4 separate regions of the Homo sapiens genome follow, and regions 1, 3 and 4 are each linked to region 2. The links come from fine-mapping of genetic effects on gene expression. A gene starts in region 2. Each other region holds a variant in brackets. All regions are shown on one strand. Distances are between the middles of the regions.

What was found. PIP is the estimated chance that this variant, and not a neighbour inherited with it, causes the effect. A credible set is the group of variants that fine-mapping cannot tell apart.
Region 1: its variant is the best candidate, but not a certain one, in a credible set for the expression of KCTD20 in subcutaneous fat (GTEx, PIP 0.80).
Region 3: its variant is the best candidate, but not a certain one, in a credible set for the expression of KCTD20 in whole blood (TOPMed, PIP 0.81).
Region 4: its variant is the best candidate, but not a certain one, in a credible set for the expression of KCTD20 in blood mononuclear cells (TOPMed, PIP 0.55).

What each region holds. Positions count from the first base shown.
Region 1 is chr6:36,385,658-36,390,855 of GRCh38, forward strand. ETV7 (ETS variant transcription factor 7) reads right to left here and starts at 2,012. Exons shown (of 8, transcript NM_016135.4): 1 at 1,879-2,012; 2 at 1-12. The coding sequence starts at 1,884. It overlaps PXT1 (peroxisomal testis enriched protein 1), which reads right to left. Exons shown (of 5, transcript NM_152990.4): 5 at 4,894-5,198. ETV7-AS1 (ETV7 and PTX1 antisense RNA 1) reads left to right here and starts at 963. Exons shown (of 2, transcript XR_926758.3): 1 at 963-1,273. RefSeq lists an enhancer at 1,083-1,906 and a silencer at 2,033-2,242. The variant G/T (reference allele first, on the strand shown) is at 3,132.
Region 2 is chr6:36,439,966-36,445,157 of GRCh38, forward strand. KCTD20 (potassium channel tetramerization domain containing 20) reads left to right here and starts at 3,035. Exons shown (of 8, transcript NM_173562.5): 1 at 3,035-3,146. PXT1 (peroxisomal testis enriched protein 1) reads right to left here and starts at 2,889. Exons shown (of 5, transcript NM_152990.4): 1 at 2,570-2,889. RefSeq lists enhancers at 1,356-1,903, 3,388-3,487, 4,093-4,152 and silencers at 1,710-1,779, 2,938-3,227.
Region 3 is chr6:36,597,304-36,602,303 of GRCh38, forward strand. SRSF3 (serine and arginine rich splicing factor 3) reads left to right here. Exons shown (of 6, transcript NM_003017.5): 3 at 1,546-1,680; 4 at 3,849-3,887; 5 at 4,405-4,491; 6 at 4,659-5,000. The coding sequence ends at 4,686. Among named protein-coding and RNA genes, the nearest start is that of SRSF3, 5.4 kb to the left of the region's middle. RefSeq lists enhancers at 1-363, 2,145-2,646, 2,647-3,146. The variant AACTT/A (reference allele first, on the strand shown) is at 2,122.
Region 4 is chr6:36,787,608-36,792,805 of GRCh38, forward strand. CPNE5 (copine 5) reads right to left here. Exons shown (of 21, transcript NM_020939.2): 8 at 4,426-4,489. Among named protein-coding and RNA genes, the nearest start is that of CPNE5, 49 kb to the right of the region's middle. The variant A/G (reference allele first, on the strand shown) is at 2,206.

The sequences.
Region 1 (5,198 bases), 54 kb before region 2:
CAATTCTCCCTCCTAGAGAGAGAAAAACCAGGACAGTCAAAGAAGAGCATCTTGGTGAAGGCTCAGCCATCTTTAAATGTCTTAAGAATTTTTTTGGAAGGGAAAGAGTGTTTATCTCCACCAGAAGACTGCATCAACCTTAAAGGTAGGAACCATGTATATCTTCAACTCAGTACCATCAACATTTTGTACCCAGTGGACACAATAAATGACATCCTTCCAATTCAAGCTTTCCATGCATGTGCCTAACTCCAAGAGGGATCCCCTGCCAAGACTTGTATGATTGAAATCTGAAAGCCTAGGAATCCTCACTGGATCCCTGGTGAGGACAACACAGGAAACCTGAGGGGCCAGGATCAAAAGACCTTAAATCAGAAATAAACAAATAGACCAGGTGCGGTGGCTCACACCTATAATCTCAACACTTTGGGAGTCTGGGGCGGGTGGATTACTTGAGGTCAGGAGTTTGAGACCAGCCTGACCAACATAGTGAAACATTATCTCTACGAAAAATACAAAAATTAGCCGTGCGTGGTGACCGGCGCCTGTAATCCCAGCTACTCAGGAGGCTGAGGCAGGAGAATCACTTGAACCCGGGAAGCGGAAGTTGGAGTGAGCCAAGATCACGCCACTGCACTCCAGCCTGGGCAAGAGAGCAAGACTCCGTCTCAGAACAAACAAACACTATTTTCAAAAGAGAAAAAGAAAGGATAAGGATACATTTCTGAATCCTAAGGTCTCACCACGGGAAGCCTGTATCTTTACAATTCAACAATCAGCATGGCCCCCAGAGATGACGGGGTTCATCCATTCAGATGAGAAAATGAAGAAAGTGGCAGGATTTTGTAGGAATAGGAAGCTCCTTCGGGCTCATGCCCAGCCACAGGCTGCCACAGCACGGAAAGGAAAAGTGAAACCAGCTCCATCAAGTCATTTTTCACTCTAGGATTGTCAAAAGCTTTACATTCATCTCTTGGGATCCGAGGAGAGATATCTGCCGAGAGAGAATTTGGATCGGAGCCAGCAAAGCAAACTCCAGAAGCCTTGGCTGCTGCGAAAGGGGATTCAACACCTTTCCGGGTCGTTCTCACTTCATTTCCAGCCGGTCCCCCTTTGGTGCTGTTTCCCAAGTAATCAGACCTCAGGGGTTGCCTCCTGGTGGGGAAAGGGAAGCTTGCCTTGCTGGAGAAGGGGCTCAAGGCACAGGACTTGCCTCGGACTTGCCAAGGAGGCTTGCAGGAGGCTCTTTGTCTACTCCTCTGTCCTCATCCAAGTAAGAGGAGCGGGGAATTCCGAGGCTGTAACTGCCTGGGAAACGCCAGCCACGGAGCTGCTGAGGATCAGACTCCTGGGTTTCAGCATGGAGGCCAGGGAAGGGTCTGATAATGGGTATGGGTCCTGGCGAGAGGGGAGTGGAGAAAGGCCTTGGAGTGGGACGGGGCGCCAGCTCTGGGGGCAGTCTCGAGGCACCTAGAAAACCGGCGAGTGGGGAGAGGCTGCTAAAGAGGGGCTCCCTGCGAGAATGCGTTCACCAGCTGTGAGGACCTGGCTGGCGCACGAACTTCCAAAGACCTCACATCTGGTTGGTGTAGGGGCGACCAGTGGTAAGGGGGCTGCGGAAAGGGCCCGCAGGGGCTGTGCGTGATGCCTTCAGAGCTGTGTATGACACCGAGAGAGTCAGGGGCGGTGACCCGCGTCTGGAGGTGGAAGGGGAAGTGAGTGAGGGATGGATGTGAGGTTTAGGAATGTGTTGGAAAGAGAGATTCCCGCCAGGTAAAAGGTCTGATAAAATAGGTTTGGAAATCTAGGTGGTGAGGAAAGGATGCGGGAGCAGGTGGCTCTGCGTGCGCGCTGCGTGTTCAGCCGCCAGGCTCTTACCTGCATTACAGGTGGAGGTGAGGAAGCCACCGGCTTTCTGTCTTGAGCGCTCCCCTGGCTGTGGCTGCTGGGGCCCTAGGCCCGCGCCCCGCAGTCCTCCTCCGCCAAACCCCTAACCTGGCTCCGAGAACTGGAAGGTCGCGTGGGAGGAAATCTCTTTCGAGAAGCGCCAAGGCGTGTGCGCCCGGGTCCTCCGCAGGCGGGCAGGCGCGCGAGGCGCTCCGGTAATCGCTATCCTTCCGGGAAACGAAAACGAAAGAGCGGGATGCGGTTCCACTTGCGCCGCTGCGGGCTAGGAGCAGGGCAGGGCAGGGCAGGGGCCGGCCCCGTGGGAGCGCAGCACCGGGGCGCTGCCCGCTCGCTAGCCTGGGAGGCGTGGGTCCTGCACACAGCCTCCAGCCGGCGGACAGTCCCTCTGGCGACCTGGCCTTGGCTCCCACTGGGGCAGAGCCGGGATTCTGCAGGATCTGAGGATCTAAGGGGACCCCTAGTCCTGAACTCGGAACCAACTGCGTCTCTCACGGTCCCGAGCCCAGGACCAGGAAGGACCCTGTGAGTCTCCGCACATAGGATAGGAAGGGGCCTCGCATGGTGCCTCTCCCTTTAGGGGTGAGTGACCTTCCCGGCCCCGATACTGTCTCGGCCTGCCGTTTGGCCCCGCTGAGGCCCCACAGGTCCGGAACCGTCGCACCACCATCAGAGCGGCTGTGCTCTCCTGAGCAGGGCCAGACTACTCGGAGATCCCGACTGACACCTTTTCCTGGGCCTCTGGGTGCTCCGGGGTTGGTGCCTGCCCACCCATCACCCTTTCCATCTGTCTCAGCTCCCCCTGTCTCAAGAGAGGTTGTGCGCATAAAAACAAACCAGAAGACACCGAAGAAAAGGAAAGAAAAGCATTAACAACCTTCTGCTGAAAATCTGAGGGTGTAGACGCTGTTACAAAGTAGGCTTAGCACTGGTATATCATCACAAGCTCTAGGCCAGCAATAAGAAACCAGTAAGAACAAGGCCAGAAACCCAGTAGGAAAAAAAAATGAGCAAAGGATATGAATAAACAGTCCACATAAAAGGAAATGCCAAATGGCTCCTGAATATACAAAAAGATGCCCAGGGTGCAGTGGCTCATGCCTGTAATCCCAGCACTTTGGGATGCCAAGGTGGGAGGATCGCTTGAGCCCAGGAGTTGGACACCAGTCTGAACAACATGGTGAGATCCTGTCTTTACTGAAAATTTAAAAAATTAGCCGGGCATG[G/T]TGGGGCTACACCTGTAGCCCCAGCTATTCAGGAGGCTGAGGATGGAAGATCGCTTGAGCCTGAGAGTTGGAGGCTGCAGTGAGCCGTGACTGTGCCACTGCACTCCAGCCTGGGCAGCAGAGAAAGAAAAAGATGCTCAGACAAACTCACTATTTTAAATGTGCAAATTAAAGTTATTCTGAGATAGAAATTTTTACCCATAAATTTGGCAAAAATTTAAAAGTTTACTAACATAATCTGCTGGAAAAGCTGAGGTAAAGTGGTGCAACCCCACAGCGGGGTCTGGCAAATTTACAAATGCATTTTCCTTTCACCCAGCAATCTGCCTACCAGAAATTTATTCAACAAATATCCAAAGTATACATAGTTACTTATTTAATCATGGTTTATAATAGCAAAGTATGAGAAATAACTCAGGTGTCCACAAAAGGAGGCTTGATAAACTAATGCACATTCATTTCTTTTAATTTTAATTTTCTATTTTTTTTTTTTTTTTAGAGACAGGGTCTCACTCTGTCGCCCAGGCTGGAGTGCAGTGGTGCCATCAAAGCCCACCTTAACCTCCAACTCCTGGGCTCCAGTGATCTCCCACCTCAGCTCCCAAATCACTGGGATTACAGATGTGAGCCACCACACCCAGCCAAATTATGTACATTCATTTAACTGAATACAATACAACACTTTATGGAGTTCTCTGTGGATCATGGCAAGCTCTCCAAGAGGCAGTATGGCATAGTGGATAATAATCTAGACTTAGGAACACCTGCCTGGTTTGGAATCCCAGCCATGTCATTTACTGGCTGTGTGCCCTTGAGCAAGTTTGTGTTAACCACTCTACTGCCTCCCTCTACTAACTACTGCCTCAATTTTTTAACAGTAAAAAAGAGCAAATAATAATACCTATCCCATAAGGTTGTTATGAATAAGTAAGTTAACTTTTATAAAACACCCAGAACAGTGCCTGAACACCCACGCTAAGTAAAAAAATCAAGGTACAAAACAGTGTGTATTACATGCTACCTCTTGTATGTAAATATACGTGTGTGTGTGTGTGTGTGTGTATGTATGTATGTATGTATTAATTAGTATTTATACAAAGAACCTCTGGAAGGATACATAAAAACTAATAAGCATAACTGGAATTTAGAGTAGAAAATAATAGAAAGGGTTTTTGTTGTAAACCTTTTCACATGGTTGTGATTTTTTTTTTTTTTTCTGAGATGGGGTCTTGCTCTGTCGCCAGGCTGGAGTGCAGTGGCATGATCTCGGCTCACTGCAACCTCCGCCTCCTGGGTTCAAGCGATTCTCCTGCCTCAGCCTCCCGAGTAGCTGGGACTACAGGTGCGTGCTACCACACCCACCTAATTTTTGTATTTTTAGTAGAGACAGGGTTTCACCATGCTGGCCACAATGGTCTCAATCTCTTGACCTCGTGATCTGCCCACCTCGGCCTCCCAAAGTGCTGGGATTACAGGCGTGAGCCACTGTGCCTGGCCTTGTTTTGATTTTTGAATCATATAAATAAAAACCTATTCAAAATAAATTTTAAAAAGACAGTTTTAGGGCTAGTCAGCCAGAACCTAAGTAATAATAGAAATAAATATGCACTGCCTGCGACAGACTAAAAAATGGAGACATTTCCCTTTGGAAGGACAAAGTCAATGCTATGTATAATCAAAGTCTACAAACCAATATGAGCAGGAATAAGTGGCTAGACCCTGCTGTGGGGTTCCTCCTTCAAAAAAGAAATATGCACAGGGGTTTCATGCTCAATAAAATAACAATATTTATTTCATTTTTAGAATTTTTTAAAATAACACTTCCCCTATGAAGAACTCAAGATACATATGTAAACTTTTAATTTATAACAACAAGCTTTCCTAATATTTATAATTCTTTTAAAGGAGGGGAGAGAGGGACTATGAGGTAGACAAAAAGGTAAAAGAAGAAGCATGCAGGTGAAAGAACTGCCTAACAGCGTGCAGGAGAGAATGAGTGAAATACATTCCACAGGCAAAGGGCCCACCAACCAATAATAGCAAAACCATCCAGCAATAGGAAAAGAG
Region 2 (5,192 bases):
CCTGCACCTGTAGTCCTAGCTACTCAGGAGGCTGAGGTGGGAGGATCACTTGAGCCCAGGAGGTTGAGGTTGCAGTGAGCCATGATCCCACCACTGCACTCCAGCCTGAGTGACAGGGCAAGACTCTGTCTCAGAAAACAAAAGAAAACGAACATTTAGCAAATTTAATTATTCGAGAGAGACAGTTCAAAATCTAGGGATTTTTGGTTTGTTTTTATATTTACTACATAAGCTTAGTCGGTAGAAATGAGGATTAGCTTTTTGTATGACAATTTACAATAGCTATTATTTAAAAAATATTTTTATTCTTAAGAGTCAACCTTGACCGGGCGTGGTGGCTTGCGCCTGTAATCCCAGCACTTTGGGATGCCGAGGCGGGTGGATCACGAGGTCAGGAGATCGAGACCATCTTGGCTAACATGGTGAAACCCCATCTCTACTAAAAATACAAAAAATTAGCCGGGCACAGTGGCGGGCGCCTGTAGTCCCAGCTACTCGAGAGGCTGAGGCAGGAGAATGGCGTGAACCTGGGAGGGGGATTAAGTCCAGAAGATCGAGGCTGCAGTGAGTGGTGATCACCCAGCCTGAGCAACAAAGGGAGACACTGTCTCAAAAAAAAAAAAAGAAGAAGGTTTTGGTTTCAGATACAAATAAATATCAGAGACTCGGGGTCTTGAGATACCTACATTAAATTAGAAATAAAATGATAAAAACCAGCAAACACCTATGCTTTCTGTGAATATACATTTCTCATATCCCGTCTCCTTGATGTCTGCCCAAAAAAGGTACCCAGTCTGATATGCTGTTCATTATATGAAATTTTAGCCAAAAGTTGAACCATTAACTATTAAAAGTCATGTTATCACTTATTTATTTTGGATGATGGATAACGGGTGTTTATTATATCTTTCTGTATGCTTTAATTTCCAAAATGAAAGTGTTTAAAAAATAATAATAAGACTCGGTAGTTAGCCTGATTCTCCAAACTTCAGGCCAGATTTTTGTATACCACAAATCTGCAGCCAGTGCAGTGGCTCATGCCTGTAATCCCCAAACTTAGGGAGGCAGAAGCAGGAGGATAGCTTGAGCCTAGGAGTTCAAGACCTGCCTGGGCAACAGAATAAGAACTCCATTCTCCACAAAAAGAAAAAAAAAAAAAAAAAGAAAGACAATATACAAATCTACGGGAAGGAATCTTTCCAGAAAGGAAGAATTTGTTTCAAGAACTGTTTTGCAGGAATATCAGAAGGTTTTTTATTTTTCTTTGACTCAAAGGCTGTAACACTGTACTTTATAAAAATGGAAATAAAGGCATTAGTTTGAACAATCCTCTATGCTGCTACTGTTGTAAAGTTTGGAGCCTATAACTCACTCAAATTGGTTTATAGCCATGTGTTTACTAAATCTTTTTTCATATTCCTTTTCTCCAGGCATACAGGAATTTATATCTCACAGCCTTCTTAGAGTCAGTCAGGTTGAGCCTGGTGACTAGTTCAGGACAGTGAAACGTCAGCAGAAGTGAAAAGGCCACTCACTTCTGGCAGAGGCAAAGGAGAGCCCTTACAGGATTCTCCAATCTAGCTCTTCTGCCAGCCCGGAAGTGCTGGGAGGGCAGAGCCACTGACGCAAGCAGCAGGGAAGCTGAGTCACCATGGGGACGTGAGACTGACTTACAGATGACGAGTGCAGCCTCACAGCCTAGTCCATGTTGAGATAAACACAATACAGTCCTGCATACTTTATAGTCATAAACGAGGGAGAATAGAAATGGAAAATGACCCTCTAGGCCTCTAAGACCAAATTATAATGAAAAAATTTATGTCTTCAGTTTTGAAAATTAAATTTTTTGACCCTGATAAAACAAATTTGCTATACAAGTATCCGTTAACCGTGTGAAACCTACTGAGTCAAACTATTTTCTTACATTCCTTCCACTTCAACACCAATTCTAATCCAATTCCAAATTAGTTTTCAGAGAGTCTCTTGTAAGGAAAAGGAGAATCGACTTCGAATTTTAAAATTTGTGCTATTATTAGTTTATAGAGCTTTCAACAATTTACAAATAGTTTGCATAATCAGTATATTTAATTAGTATATATAGACATATATATATATATTTGAGAGGGAACTTCACTGCAACCTCCCAGTTGCCTCCTGGGTTCAAGTGATTCTCCTGCCTCAGCCTCCCAAACAGCTAGGGTTATAGGCGCCCACCACCACGCCCGGCTAATTTTTGTATTTTTAGCAGAGACAGGGTTTCATCATGTTGGCCAGGCTGGTCTGGAATGCCCAACCTCAGGTGATCTGCCCGCCTCGGCCTCCCAAAGTGCAAGGATTACAGGCGTGAGCCACCAAGCCCGGCCTAGTGTAATTTTTAAAAGTACAAAAGCCACTAGAAACCGTGACAATAAGAACTTCCTTTTGGGTTTTCCAGCATTTGGTTCATAGGACATGGACCATATATAGATGTTTTTTGAATGCTGAAATCTTTTACTCATAACACAGTTTTCCCAGTAACTTGCTTCCGGTTGATTTAAAATTTGTAATACACCTTTGTAATAGCAGGTACCTTCATGAAACTCAGTATTTGAGAAAAATGTGGAGTTTTTCCCCCTTTCTTTTGGCCAGAATGTATATCCAGGGTAGTGACTTTCGAGCAAATGCGTTTAAGCAACTCCAGTATTCTTACTACGCTACCTCCAACCTCGCTCCACGCATGGGGAGATCAGGGTTCCACATTTTCGGGTAAGCATTAGCCGTCCTGGCGCTGCACGAGCGTATTCTACAATTCCGAAAACTACTAACTTTTCCGTCTGCAACCTTTAATAATTGAGAGGGTATGCGCAACTCAGAAAAGTGCGCCCGCTGAGGTTGGGTGCAGAGTGGACTGGAGGAAAGGCGACACCCATTTACGGTGCGGCCCCGGACGGGGTCCCCAGACACGGCCTTCCCGGCGTGCCACGCGCGGAGGGGACTCTTAACGTGAAGCGCTGGGTGACTCAGCCGCGTGGCCGCGCGGTCCGGGGCGGGGGGCGCGCGCCGCTGCGGCACAGCCGGTCCCGGCTGCGGCTTCTGGCTGCGCGGCCTGCGCGCGCCTCCCGGGCGGATTCCAGCCCCGAGCGGGACAGCGCGGCGGGGAGCGACGAGTAAGTGGCGGCGCGGTACGGTTTCGGGCGCGAAGACCGGGCAGGGAGAGTGTGGCGGCGGGCGTGGCCCGAGTCTTCCCTTTGTGGCCGAGGGGGCGTCTCCTCCGGACGCGGCGGCGGTTCGGACCCCCGAGTCGAAAGGCCGCGGGGCTGAGCTGGGCGCGAGGAACCTGTGGGCAGCGGCTTGATGGGCTCCTGTTTCCGCGCGGAGGGCAGAGTCTGGTGATCCTGGGGAGGGAGGCGACGCTGCGCCCAGGTGGTGGGCACAGCTGAAGTGTAACTTGACTGCTTGACTGCTTTTTGCAGGCCTCGGGTGGTTCATCCCGCCGGAGAGGAATGGCGAGAACCTGGAGTGTTGACTGGCAAAACATTTGCAGACGCGGTTTTTCTGGCAATTAATTGGCTCCATTAAAAATTAGGTAGTTGGTGGGGACTTCCTCCTGAACTCTGGAGCCGAGCGCATTTTGCTCGGTCTTTTCAGCCCTGTTTCCGCGTCTTCCTTCCCTGCCACCCGCAAATTGCCAGCTTTCATCCGTGGCTCTGAGTGCAAAAGAGCTGGGGAAAGCCTTAACCAGCAATTTTCTTTTAAATAAAACTTTGCTTTTTATAGCAGTGTCTTCAGGTTTAGAAGCCCAGTTCTGCACTATGAGAAAACTCTTCTATTTTGGAGTTTGTGATTCTTTCTGAAAATTCCTCAGTTGAAGAGATTTATTTTTAAATAAGAATCTAGTGAACAAACTAACATGATAAACAAGGCTGTGAAGGAACTGTTTAACCAGCTTATGAAAATATGTCCCAGAGTCCTTAGTTTTGTTCCTGTTCGCTGTGCGAGAAGTTGAGGTAGTTTTTTAATGGTCTTCAAAACAAAGTGTTGTAGTAGTGTCTGTCGGATGTGATGAATCCAGAGTCAGAGGACTTCCGCTCAAGGCCCCCACCTGAAACCCCAATTCCTAGGCCATAGTTCTGAAACAGAAGATTGTTCCTTAGTAATAAGGTTGCAGTACCCTAGCACCTCTTCCATAAATTTGATTCTAGAGATTTGTGATGGGTCCCTGAGTCTGGGATTTAAGCAAGCACCTGCACTCTTGGTCTGTTACTGATGATCCAGGGACCGACCACACGTTGACAGACACCACCTTTAGGCTGGGCTGGGAATTTTAAAAACTGCCCAACAGCCTTAACCCTTTGTCGATGTTTTCCTCCCCTGCCCTAAACCAGTCGTAGGACAAGAAGCCCTGACTCTCCAGAAGCCAATATGAGAAAAGATAGTGCTTTTTTTGACCCTGACACGGGGTAGGAAATGATTTTCATGCATATTCCGATATTGCTCTGATGGTTTAGAGATAGCCCATTAATCTTTTCCTTCTGAGGGCTGCTTCTAGTATCATCAGAGCTTAATGCCATTAGGCCAAATCTCCTCCGCCCAGCTCACTCAAGTCTCCCCATGGAACCAGGGCAGCCAATGCCATATAATTCCCATGGCCTTGACTGTCATATTATCTGGTATGTAGCAGTACTAGTAGCATTATGAGGGCTTTCAGTTCAGCTGGACGTTAATTTAGTCATCAAATACCTGCGTAATGCCTATTTTCCTCAAAGCACTGTAGTAGGCTGTTTTATCAACAGCATTGCAATATAGACACATATTTCTGGCACAGAGTTGCATTCCTCCTTTGAGGCAGAAATGAGGGCTGGATAAACTCCACTGCTGCCAAAAGGTTCTCTTTATTCATCCACAATTTGTTCCTTCCTGTTATGCCAGAAATACACGTACTATTCCAATAATCTCGTTTTCCTTAAGAAGTTAAGAAATACATTGTATTAGGCCTAACTGTAGTAGTTAGGTCAGTCTTAAATTCTGTAACAGAAGCCGGGCGTGGTGGCTCATGCCTGTAATCCCAGCAATTTGGGAAGCCGAGGCAGATGGATCACCTGAGGTCAGGAGTTTCAGACCAGCCTGGCCAACCTGGTGAAACCCTGTCTCTACTAAAAATACAAAAATAAGCCAGGCATGGTGGTGGGCACCTGTAATCCCAGCTACACGGG
Region 3 (5,000 bases), 160 kb after region 2:
CCATGTTGGCCAGGCTGGTCTCGAACTCCTGACCCCAGGTGATCTGACCGCCTTGACCTCCCAAAGTGCTGGAATTACAGGTGGGAGCCACTGTGCCCAGCCAGGATCAAATATTTTTAAGAGTAGTTGTGAACTGATCCTTGTTTAAAAAATTGTTTACAAAATGGTTACATGGGTTGGTTGTACCTTTACTTTTATGTGTTTGAAATACTCCAGAAAGTGAATCACTTACTATTTCCCTTTGTGTTAATAGTGTCCTGTTAGCTGGCTGAGTAAGGCCTGAGTATTGACCTCCATGCCCCCACCCCCCTTTCCTCATATTTGGAAGTATAATGGGAAAAAGGAGCTGAGTGTTCACTGTAAAGCTGCATGAAAGGTTGGTCAATTCAAGCAGGTTGTAGTAAAGTTTTCCAGGGCCCACCTCTTCCCAGTCACTCTTCAAATATGATAGCTTATCTAAATTTAATGACTGGTTGTATTAAGGGTGAGGAATAATGGTCTTTTTTTTTTTTTTTTACTACTGTGAGCTATAATTTCTTTTTTTAAAAAAATGTATATTTATTATTTAAAAAATAATACAGACGACAGTCTGTGTTGCCCAGGCTGGCCTCAAGCTCCTGGGCTCAAGCCATCCTCCTGCCTCAGCCTCTCTGAGTGCTGGGATTACAGGCATGAGCCACCTCACCTGGCCACAGCTATAATTTCTTCTGTGCTGACTGTTGAGGGGAGAGGGTGCTGTAAAATGGCCAAAATGGTTCTGTCTTGTCTTGAACTGATTTTTTACTTGGAGTGGGGCAGGGGGAGACCAATAAATACAGCCTGGTAAATAACTGAAATAAGTGCAGGGACTTCAAGGGAAGAAATCATAATGAAGATACAGGAGAACTTGTTTTTCAAGGATAAATGGATCTTCACACTTAAATTGCAACTGTTAACAAATTAACATTGAGCTCAGTAATCAGACTGGCTCTAACAATTAGGTGATAAAATAGAATTTGACTTCCTTGTGAATTGGTACTTTAGAAAATCCTATTTGTTTAATTTGAAATTAATTGAAATTTTAATTTGAAACTGGGAAACAAGCTTATTTTATTTTTCAAGACAGAGTCTTGCTCTGTCCCCCAGGCTGGAGTGCAATGGTGTGATCTTGGCTCGTTGTAACCTCTGCCTACTGGGTTCAAGTGATTCTCCTGCCTCAGCCGCCTGAGTAGCTGGGATTACAGGCATGTACCACCACACCTGGCTATTTTTTGTATTTTTAGTAGAGCGAGGGTTTCACCACGTTGGCCAAGATAGTGTCGAACTCTTGACCTTGTGATCCGCCTGCCTCGGCCTCATAAAGTGTTGGGATTACAGGCGTGTACCACCGTGCCTGGCCAAAGCTCATTTTATATTAGTAAAAATAAGGGAGCTAGAAATTTGATGTTAAATTGCACAGACACTTAGGTGTGTTCTTTGCAGAATAGCCAACTGAGAGTACTTTTGGCTTTAATACGCATGTCAGAAAGTCAGGCTGTTTTAAGTTTAATATCTTTGCCCCCTCAGAACACTATGTGGCTGCCGTGTAAGAGTGGAACTGTCGAATGGTGAAAAAAGAAGTAGAAATCGTGGCCCACCTCCCTCTTGGGGTCGTCGCCCTCGAGATGATTATCGTAGGAGGAGTCCTCCACCTCGTCGCAGGTACTTGAGAGAAAGCTTGTTAAGAGGTATTGGTGTAATGGAGTAGCTAGTAGGAGCAGGTATTTCTCTTAAGTTTGTTGGTGGGTTTTAAACTTTGGAAGAATCGGAGGTTTCTGTGAAACATTTGTTGGGTGTAATTTGGGGTATGTGAGTTGTGCTGAGTGTTGGCTTTTGTCTTTAGGTCACTGTTCATGTTGGTAGTCAGTAACTTCTATCTTGGATCTGTCTTCTAGTTCATCTTTCTAGTTGCATCTTTCCAAATCTTCCCTTATACTTCAGTTTAGGCCTTTTTCCATTTCTTGGCTCCATAATGACAAACATTACATTCAACTCTAGCTCTTCACAAATTTGTGTTTTCTACTATTAGCACAATTGTAATATTTATCAAACAGGCAGCTGTTTTAATGTTACAACTGGTAAAGTAGAAATCATTCTGAGACT[AACTT/A]AAGTCACTGACCAATAAAGGGGGCTAAAAAAGAAGTAATCCCAGTCATCTGTTCTTCAATCCCAAATAGGAGAAAATTCAGTTTTTTTATAATTGAAAATGGCATCATTCTTGGACCAGGCAGTATTGTCTGGGTGCTAACTCCACATCTCCTCAGACCTCCAAAATAGTTTCTATAGGACTAAATTTACCTCTTACAGGTGAGTGGAGTCCTTCTAGGAGACAGGAGTTCAAAATCTTGCCCCTTTTGCTATTTTGAAAAACAACAGCACACTGTTGCCCATCATAATAAAGAGTATTTGTTAGCTAATAGATGGTTGTACTGATGGCTTGTTTTTCATTTTTTTTGTGCTTTTTGGTCCATCTATTAATAAAAATGAACCCCGTTACAGAGTCACCATCATGTCTCTTCTCACCACCCTCTGAATCTGCATTAGCCAGTCAACTAGCCCTTTCAGCGTCATGTGACCAGCGCGCCCCATTCAGCTTGGCTGGTGTCGTTTCACATGACCCAGGCTGGCCAGTCGTCAGGTTGCACCGCCCTTTGGTTCCCGAGCATGCTGTTTTCTCTCAGCCTTCTCTCCAACCTTAACCAAATCGGCAGCAGCCACCTCGACCGCCCACACATTCCTGGCCAATCAGCTCAGCTGTTTATTTACCAAATGTCTTCACAACAACTACAGCAGCAGCCTTCGGCTAACAAAAAAGCAGGAAAAATCCACAACACCCCCTTCGCCAACCAACTAAATCCAACGCAACATCTGGCAAAACCTTTTCAGCAAATTCTTCCTGGCCGTCAGTCCGGCAGCCTCACCTCACCATTTCTAGCTTGTTGAAACCCAAAACTAGTAAGTTTTTCCTGCTTATACAGTTTACTGCTGGTTAAAATAAGGAGTAAGCGGCTTAAAGTAATTCTTTTTTCTGGATCAAAGGCTGGCTGTGCATAATTGAATGGTAACGTACATATATATTGCTTGAAAAACTTTTAAGGGTGATAGGGAACTCGTAATGTAACTAGGCCTTCAAGTGAAACTTATTTGCATGTGCAAGATGCCAAACTAAAAATTTTAATATCTCTAACAGATTAGCTTTTCTGGCAAAAATTTGTTGAATCCTATCACCTTTAAATGGTTTTACTAACAGTTTCAAAATTTAAAATTTTGGGGTTGAAGTGTGGGCCAAGCTAAGGTAATTTTGGTAAGCCTAAACACACTCTTAAATGTGACGATCACAAATGCAGTTCTAATGTAGCACTTAATGGCATCAATATTTACACCTACCGCGTTTTCACAAAATTACACTATCCACCTGGTACCTAAGTCTTGTCATGGACTTACAGGTTTGCATGGGTTCCAAATACTGGTTTATGGTACTGTTTTTGGAACTACTTGTGGGACTATATTTTGGTGTGGTGTTTGGGTAGTGAAGTTAGTTTGACATGAAGTTTTGCATTGGACAGATCTGCTGTGAAGCATTCTTTGTTAAAGTGAATCCATGGTTGGAATACCTGCTTTTCACTTGAGCTTTTTGTTTCTTAATCCTTCTGTGCCTTTTTTTTCTTTTCTTTTTTTTCTTTTTTTTTTTTTTTTTTTTTTTTTGGACGATGGGTGCCAGTTCTTCGGCACATTCACTGGGCCCAACAGTGAGATTGAAAAGTTGGGAAATGCCTCACGCCATAAATACTAATTGATGATGAGCCTAATTTTCCTGTTTCTGCTTTTAGATCTCCAAGAAGGAGAAGCTTCTCTCGCAGCCGGAGCAGGTAAATGACTACCTTTTTTGGCTACGTTCTTAGAAATGGCAGTGTTTCTGCTATTCCTAAACTTTTCCAGGTGGCTTAGTTAATGGGAATAAACCTTGGCTTTAATAGTGAATCAAGTTGTAAGGATGAGTCAGCTTTCTTTGAGTTTTCAAAGGCTTTTTAGAAAGTATTTAATTTTTTAAAAAAGGATCTGTCACCCAGGCTGGAGTGCAGTGGTGTGATTATAGCTCACTGTAGCCTTTAACTCCTGGCCTTGGAGTGATCCTCCCTCTTCAGCCTCCTGAGTAGCTTGGACTACAGGCAAGTACTGCCATACCTGGCTAATTTATTTTTTGTGGAGATGGGATCTCACTTTGTTGTCCAATCTGTTCTCAAACTCTTGGCTTCAAGTGAGCCTCCTGCCTCTGCCTCCCAAAATATTGGAATTATTGGCATGAGTCACCATGCCAGATCAAGAAAATATTTATGTATAATTTTATCATACCTCATTGGTCCTAATGTTTTTTTGCTTGTTTAGGTCCCTTTCTAGAGATAGGAGAAGAGAGAGATCGCTGTCTCGGGAGAGAAATCACAAGCCGTCCCGATCCTTCTCTAGGTCTCGTAGGTAAGATCTTTGATAACTTGTATTTAAGACTTTGCATACATAGTATGCTAAGGCCTGTCTTCTAAGCCATAAATTTTTTACCTTAAAGTTCTATTTCGATATGTCACTAAAGTGTCACCAAGTTACAGATGTAATGTTTTGTTTTCTTTTTTTTTTTTTTTTTTTAGTCGATCTAGGTCAAATGAAAGGAAATAGAAGACAGTTTGCAAGAGAAGTGGTGTACAGGAAATTACTTCATTTGACAGGAGTATGTACAGAAAATTCAAGTTTTGTTTGAGACTTCATAAGCTTGGTGCATTTTTAAGATGTTTTAGCTGTTCAAATCTGTTTGTCTCTTGAAACAGTGACACAAAGGTGTAATTCTCTATGGTTTGAAATGGATCATACGAGGCATGTAATACCAAGAATTGTTACTTTACAATGTTCCCTTAAGCAAAATTGAATTTGCTTTGAACTTTTAGTTATGCACAGACTGATAATAAACCTCTAAACCTGCCCAGCGGAAGTGT
Region 4 (5,198 bases), 350 kb after region 2:
GGCATTTCCATCTCTCATACTAAATTAAAAATTCTGGGACAGCAGGGACTCAGTCAAAGCATATTTCCTGAACTGAAATGAAAGAATACATGAGCACGCTGGTGACACCTAAGGGGTGGGGAGGCCCCCGGGGCAGTTATGGTGTGAAGTTATAACTCCCTTTGCAGGAGAGAGATGAGGCACACCCTTCTTCCTCCATCACTGCCTCCTCCATGACCACCGCCACCATCCTGGCTGGGACGGCCAGTCAGGTGGAAGGACCTGACTAGGAGGTGGTAAAGACGTACTATCCTGAGCCGGGAAGTCCTGACTCCAGAGCAAGGCAGGTCTGGGTGGCTGACAGGTCTCTAGGGGGAACCAAGGGGCTGGGAAGTGGAGGGCAAAGAGCTATCCAACCCTCTGTATTGACAACAACCCCTACCTTTTCTTTTTTTTTTTTTTTTGACAGGGTCTCACTCTGTTCCCCAGGCTTCAGTGCACTGGTGCAATCATGGTTCACTGCAGCTTTGACCTCCCAAGCTCAAGTGACCCTCCTACCCCAGCCTCCTGATTAGCTGGGACCACAGGCGTGCACCACCACACCCTGCTAATTTAAAAAAATTTTTTTGTAGAGATGGTCGGGGGGGGGTCTCACTATGATGTCCAGGCTGGTCTCGAACTCCTGAGCTCAAGCTATTCTCCTGCCTTGCTCAGCCTCGCAAAGTGCTGGGATTATAGGCGTGAACCCCAACCTCCACTGCTCAAAGCCACCCTGCCTGCTGAGGGCAGTAGCCCCACAAGGGACAGAAGGTCGGTGACTGTTCCCTGTACCGTGAGGGCTCGAGGCTCCAGGGGTGAGGGAAAGACTGAGGATTAGGAGTTCCAAGGCCTGAGCTAGAATCCCAGCAATCTTAGGCAGACCACTAACTTCTCTGCATCCGTAAAACAGGGTTACTCACACCCACCCAGCCCCCCAGCCTTGCAGTCAGAATCAAATAAGACTAAATAAGAGGGTCTCGGTAAACCAATGTTGGCCAGTATTACAGGCAGTAACAATCGTTTTACTGCTGTATTACAGGCAGTAACAATCGTTTTACTGCTGAGCAGAATTGAACCTTGGGTGATTCAGAAGGCCCTTCGGGAGACCAACCTCATGACTGTCAACATCAAGTACCATTCGATAGTATTTGGATCAAATTCTGATTGTGGGAACTTCTTTGACATTTAAATTCCAGATGAACAAGGCTTTTCTATAACCTGTCAAACTATGCTGGTGACACACTGGAGTCCACTGTCATCCTTTGCTGGTTCCCACCCGCCCACGTCATCCCCATGGATGAAGAGAGGGTTTGTCTACTTCGGCAAAATGTATTCATTTGAGCAGGAAGCCCTGCTCTGGTGAAAAATCATCTCTCAGACCCCACCCTCTTCCTTTGATCCTCCCACTGAATGCTGAGCTGGAAAGACGAAGCAAAGCTGTTCAGATGTAATTATTTTAATTCAGCCAGATGCTGGGAATTAGTCTCTTTTCCTTGCAAGGATTCTAGGGAGAGACAGAACTCAGCTAAAGATGCCCCAGAAGAAAAGGAGCTGACAATCTCAGGAGGAAGGGAGGGCGCTCCCTGCCCCCGACATAGACCCCTGGTGCTGGAACAGCTTAAATCAAGAAAACTGCTGCTATCCCTGGGTGAAGGAGTAGGGAGGACTGGGGAAGAAGGAGGAAGAGGAAGGGTTTAACACCTGATAGGTATTCAACCTAAGACTGCTTACCAACCCCTGGAATGCTAGACCAGTAACGGCCACCAGCATTGTCTAGAGCGTTAGAATTTCCAAAGCGCTTTCATGTATGTGACTTTATTTGGTTATAAACTAGGAAGAAAGTCACCAGCTGGGCTAGAAGCTTGGGGAAACACTGAATTTAGGTTCAAGGAATTCAGATGCACCCTTTCCTAGGCATCTGTTAGACACACTCACATTCATGAACTCCTTTAATCCTCACAGCAACCCTATCAGCGCCAAGCTGCAGGTGGAAAACGGAGGCTCTGGGAGCTGCAACAGCTCTGTTCCACAGGGCAACCGAATTCTCTCCCTTGTCTGAACTCCAGTGGCATCCAGATCCTCAGCAGACACGTGTGTTTTGTCCATGACCTGGTGCTGAACACTCGGTCTGTGCTTCCTAATCATTCAGTCACATATTCGTGATGGGTCCTCGGGAATGCCTACTGC[A/G]CCCCGAGTCCTGCCCTGGGGGTGCACACTGGGTGGGGTTCATTCCCGCTGTCAAGTGCCTTCAGATCCACTGAGATTAACAGATAAGCAACCCGGGTGAGCAGTCACATATGAATTTTTTTGGTCATCTCTAGACTGCCCTGTACTATCGATTCTGTGTTCGTGTGTCTTATTCTTCCACTGGAAGTCCTTGGAAACAGAGTTTGTAACACCACAGTCCAGTGGTTAAAGACCTTGGCTCTAGAACCAAACTGCCAAGTTTCAAATCTCTTCTACTCAGTGGCTGTGTGACCTTGGACCGATCAATTAACCTCTCTGTGCTTCAGTTTCCTTATCTATAAAAGTGAGGAAAATTAATGAGGACCATAATTCATCAGATGTTATAACACATCATACTACATACTACATTATATATTATAATATGTTAGGTAAGCAAGTCAATACATGTAAACCACTTACCACAGTGTATGGCCCAAAATAATGACTCAATTAATGTTCTCTAACACTGTTATACCTCTATACCAGCAGCTCTCAAAGTATGGACCAGGAACCCCGAGGGATCCGTGGGGTCAAAACTATTTACATAATAATGCTAAGATGAAGAGTTTTCCAGAGGTTATCTGACAGGGATTTCACAACAGATTGACTACAGAAGCAGCTATGAGAATCCAGATGTCTTCCATTAAGTCAGACGTTAAAGAGATTTGCAAAAATGTAAAACAAGGCCACTCTTCTCATTAAATGATTATTGGGAGTTATTGTTGTTTTTCAAAATATGTCTTATTTTATTTATTTATTTTTTGAGATGGAGTCTCGCTCTGTCGCCCAGGCTGGAGTGCAGAGGAGCCGAGATTCCAATCTCAGCTCACTGCAGCCTCTGCCTGCCGGGCCCAACTAATTTTTTGTGTTTTTAGTAGAGACGGGGTTTCACCATGCTGGCCAGGCTGGTCTCAAACTCCTGACCTCGTGATCCGCCCGCCTCGGCCTCCCAAAGTGCTGGGATTACAGGCGTGAGCCACCGTGCCCGGCCCCAAAAAAAATGCGTTATTTATGTTGACCCATAATGGGTTCAACTATTGTTATTTTTAAAGGAATTAAATTATTTTTAAAGGAATTAATACATACATTAAAATTCTGTTTAAATTTCTAGTAGGGTAAATATTGATTGATAGCTGATCCGTAGCACTGACCTCCCAGGAAGGTAGGAAAATCTTGTTTCTCCTGGTCATCCCTCCCAGCTCCATGGGAAGCTGTGTTCCCAGGGTAGCCCAGGCTTTGTTTACACTTGCACCCTGCCTCTCCCTGCATCTGTCCCAGCCTCCTCTTCTCTCCAAGCCCCACCACTTTCCCACTTTTATAGCCACTCTTAGGTTAGATGGTGGTGCTTTTGGGGCTGAGCCCGGATCTTAGAATCAAGCTGACCTGGAGTAGAGTCATGGCTCTGCTGTTTGTCATCCTTGAGCAGGTGACTTTGCCTCTCTGAGCCTCAATTTCCTCATCCATAGAATGGGAGTAACATTTTAGTACCTGCCTCTTAGGATGATTGTCAAGAGCAGCGATAACTTATGTAAAGTGCCTATTACTTGACAAATACTGACCATCACCATTATGATACTTTATCATTATTATTAATTATGAGGTCCCCTGAGCCCCTTCTTTGTGTGCTCAGCTGTCCCCATCTCCTGCTCCCCCACAGTCCTACAGTAAAAGCAAGACCAAGGGCTGCCTGGGACTGCAGACTTCTTCCCAACACATGCGTACGCACAGACACACTCCATCCGCCCCATGCAGGGTGTCACCCTACTCCAGAGCTGAAAGTGAAAAATGACAGCTAAATGTCAAGCACCCAGGCTTCCTTCAAGACTGAAAAGGTCTTTGCTGCCACAGTGTTGGTGCCAAGGCAGTCTCGGCTCAAGGACACGTGAGTGGTGGCTGTGATGGGGAGGGGAGGGAGCCCTGGCATGGGAGCTAGGGGACGGGGCTCAGCTGGGCTCTGCTGCTGACTGTGGGTGAGCTCCTTCTCCTCTCCGGGCCTCAGTCTGCTCAGCTATAAAAAGGGAAAACACCCACTAGCTCTGATGTTGCAAAATTCTATGACAGCCAGGTCAGCATCAGGAGCCCTGTCTACCCTCGGTTCCCTCCAGGGGCTCAGGGAGGCCAGCCTGCACTCCATCACCCCCACCCCAACCACGTCCTGTGCTGGAGTCCTCTGCCACTCACCCTACAGTTGCTGAGCTCCTCAGCGGACAGGATGATGGTGCCACATTTCTTTCCTGGGACACCACTGGGAGAGGAGAAGATGAAAGAATGGAAAGCCAGACAAAGACAGAGCCATAAACCTGACACTCCCTCAATCAGCCCCCTGCCCATCCTCCCCCGCCCCCTACCATCCAGCAGATCACCCCAAAGCCCCTGAGAAGACAGAGTCTCCTGAGATCCTTGTGGCAGTGTGGCCTAGTGCACTGCTTCCTGGGACCGGGTCCCCGAGCCTGGAGCTGCCCCACCCCCTGCTCCCCGAGAGCCCACCAGGAAGGGTAGTGCCTGCAGTGAAAGTCCTAGAATTGGAAAAGCATCCAGACTCACCCGGAGGCTTCCAGACCAGTGGTTCTCAAACTTTCCATCCAAAGACCACTTCTGTGGGCAAAAGACCTCATGGGCTAGCCACCCCACCTCACACCCAGCTGACCCCCAGCGTCCCGGGACAGTCCAGCTCTGAGCCACTCTGATGTGTCACGGGAGGGAGGAAGGCAGGAGGGCTGGTGGGCCCTCGCTGGCAGCTTGCCCAGGCTCCTTCCCATGGCTACCTCCCCTTAAATGCCTTGGCTGGGGTCTCCCTGGGAGTGAGAGATCCCAGCCGACTGTGCAGCTCCCCAGTGAAGTGGGCAACCAGATCAAGGTCCGTGAAGTCGGTCCACCCCAGCACATCCCTCCAGGAGGGCAAGTTCTTCGGCTGGGGCTCCACTCAGGGGAACTGAACCACCTCTTCCCCTGGT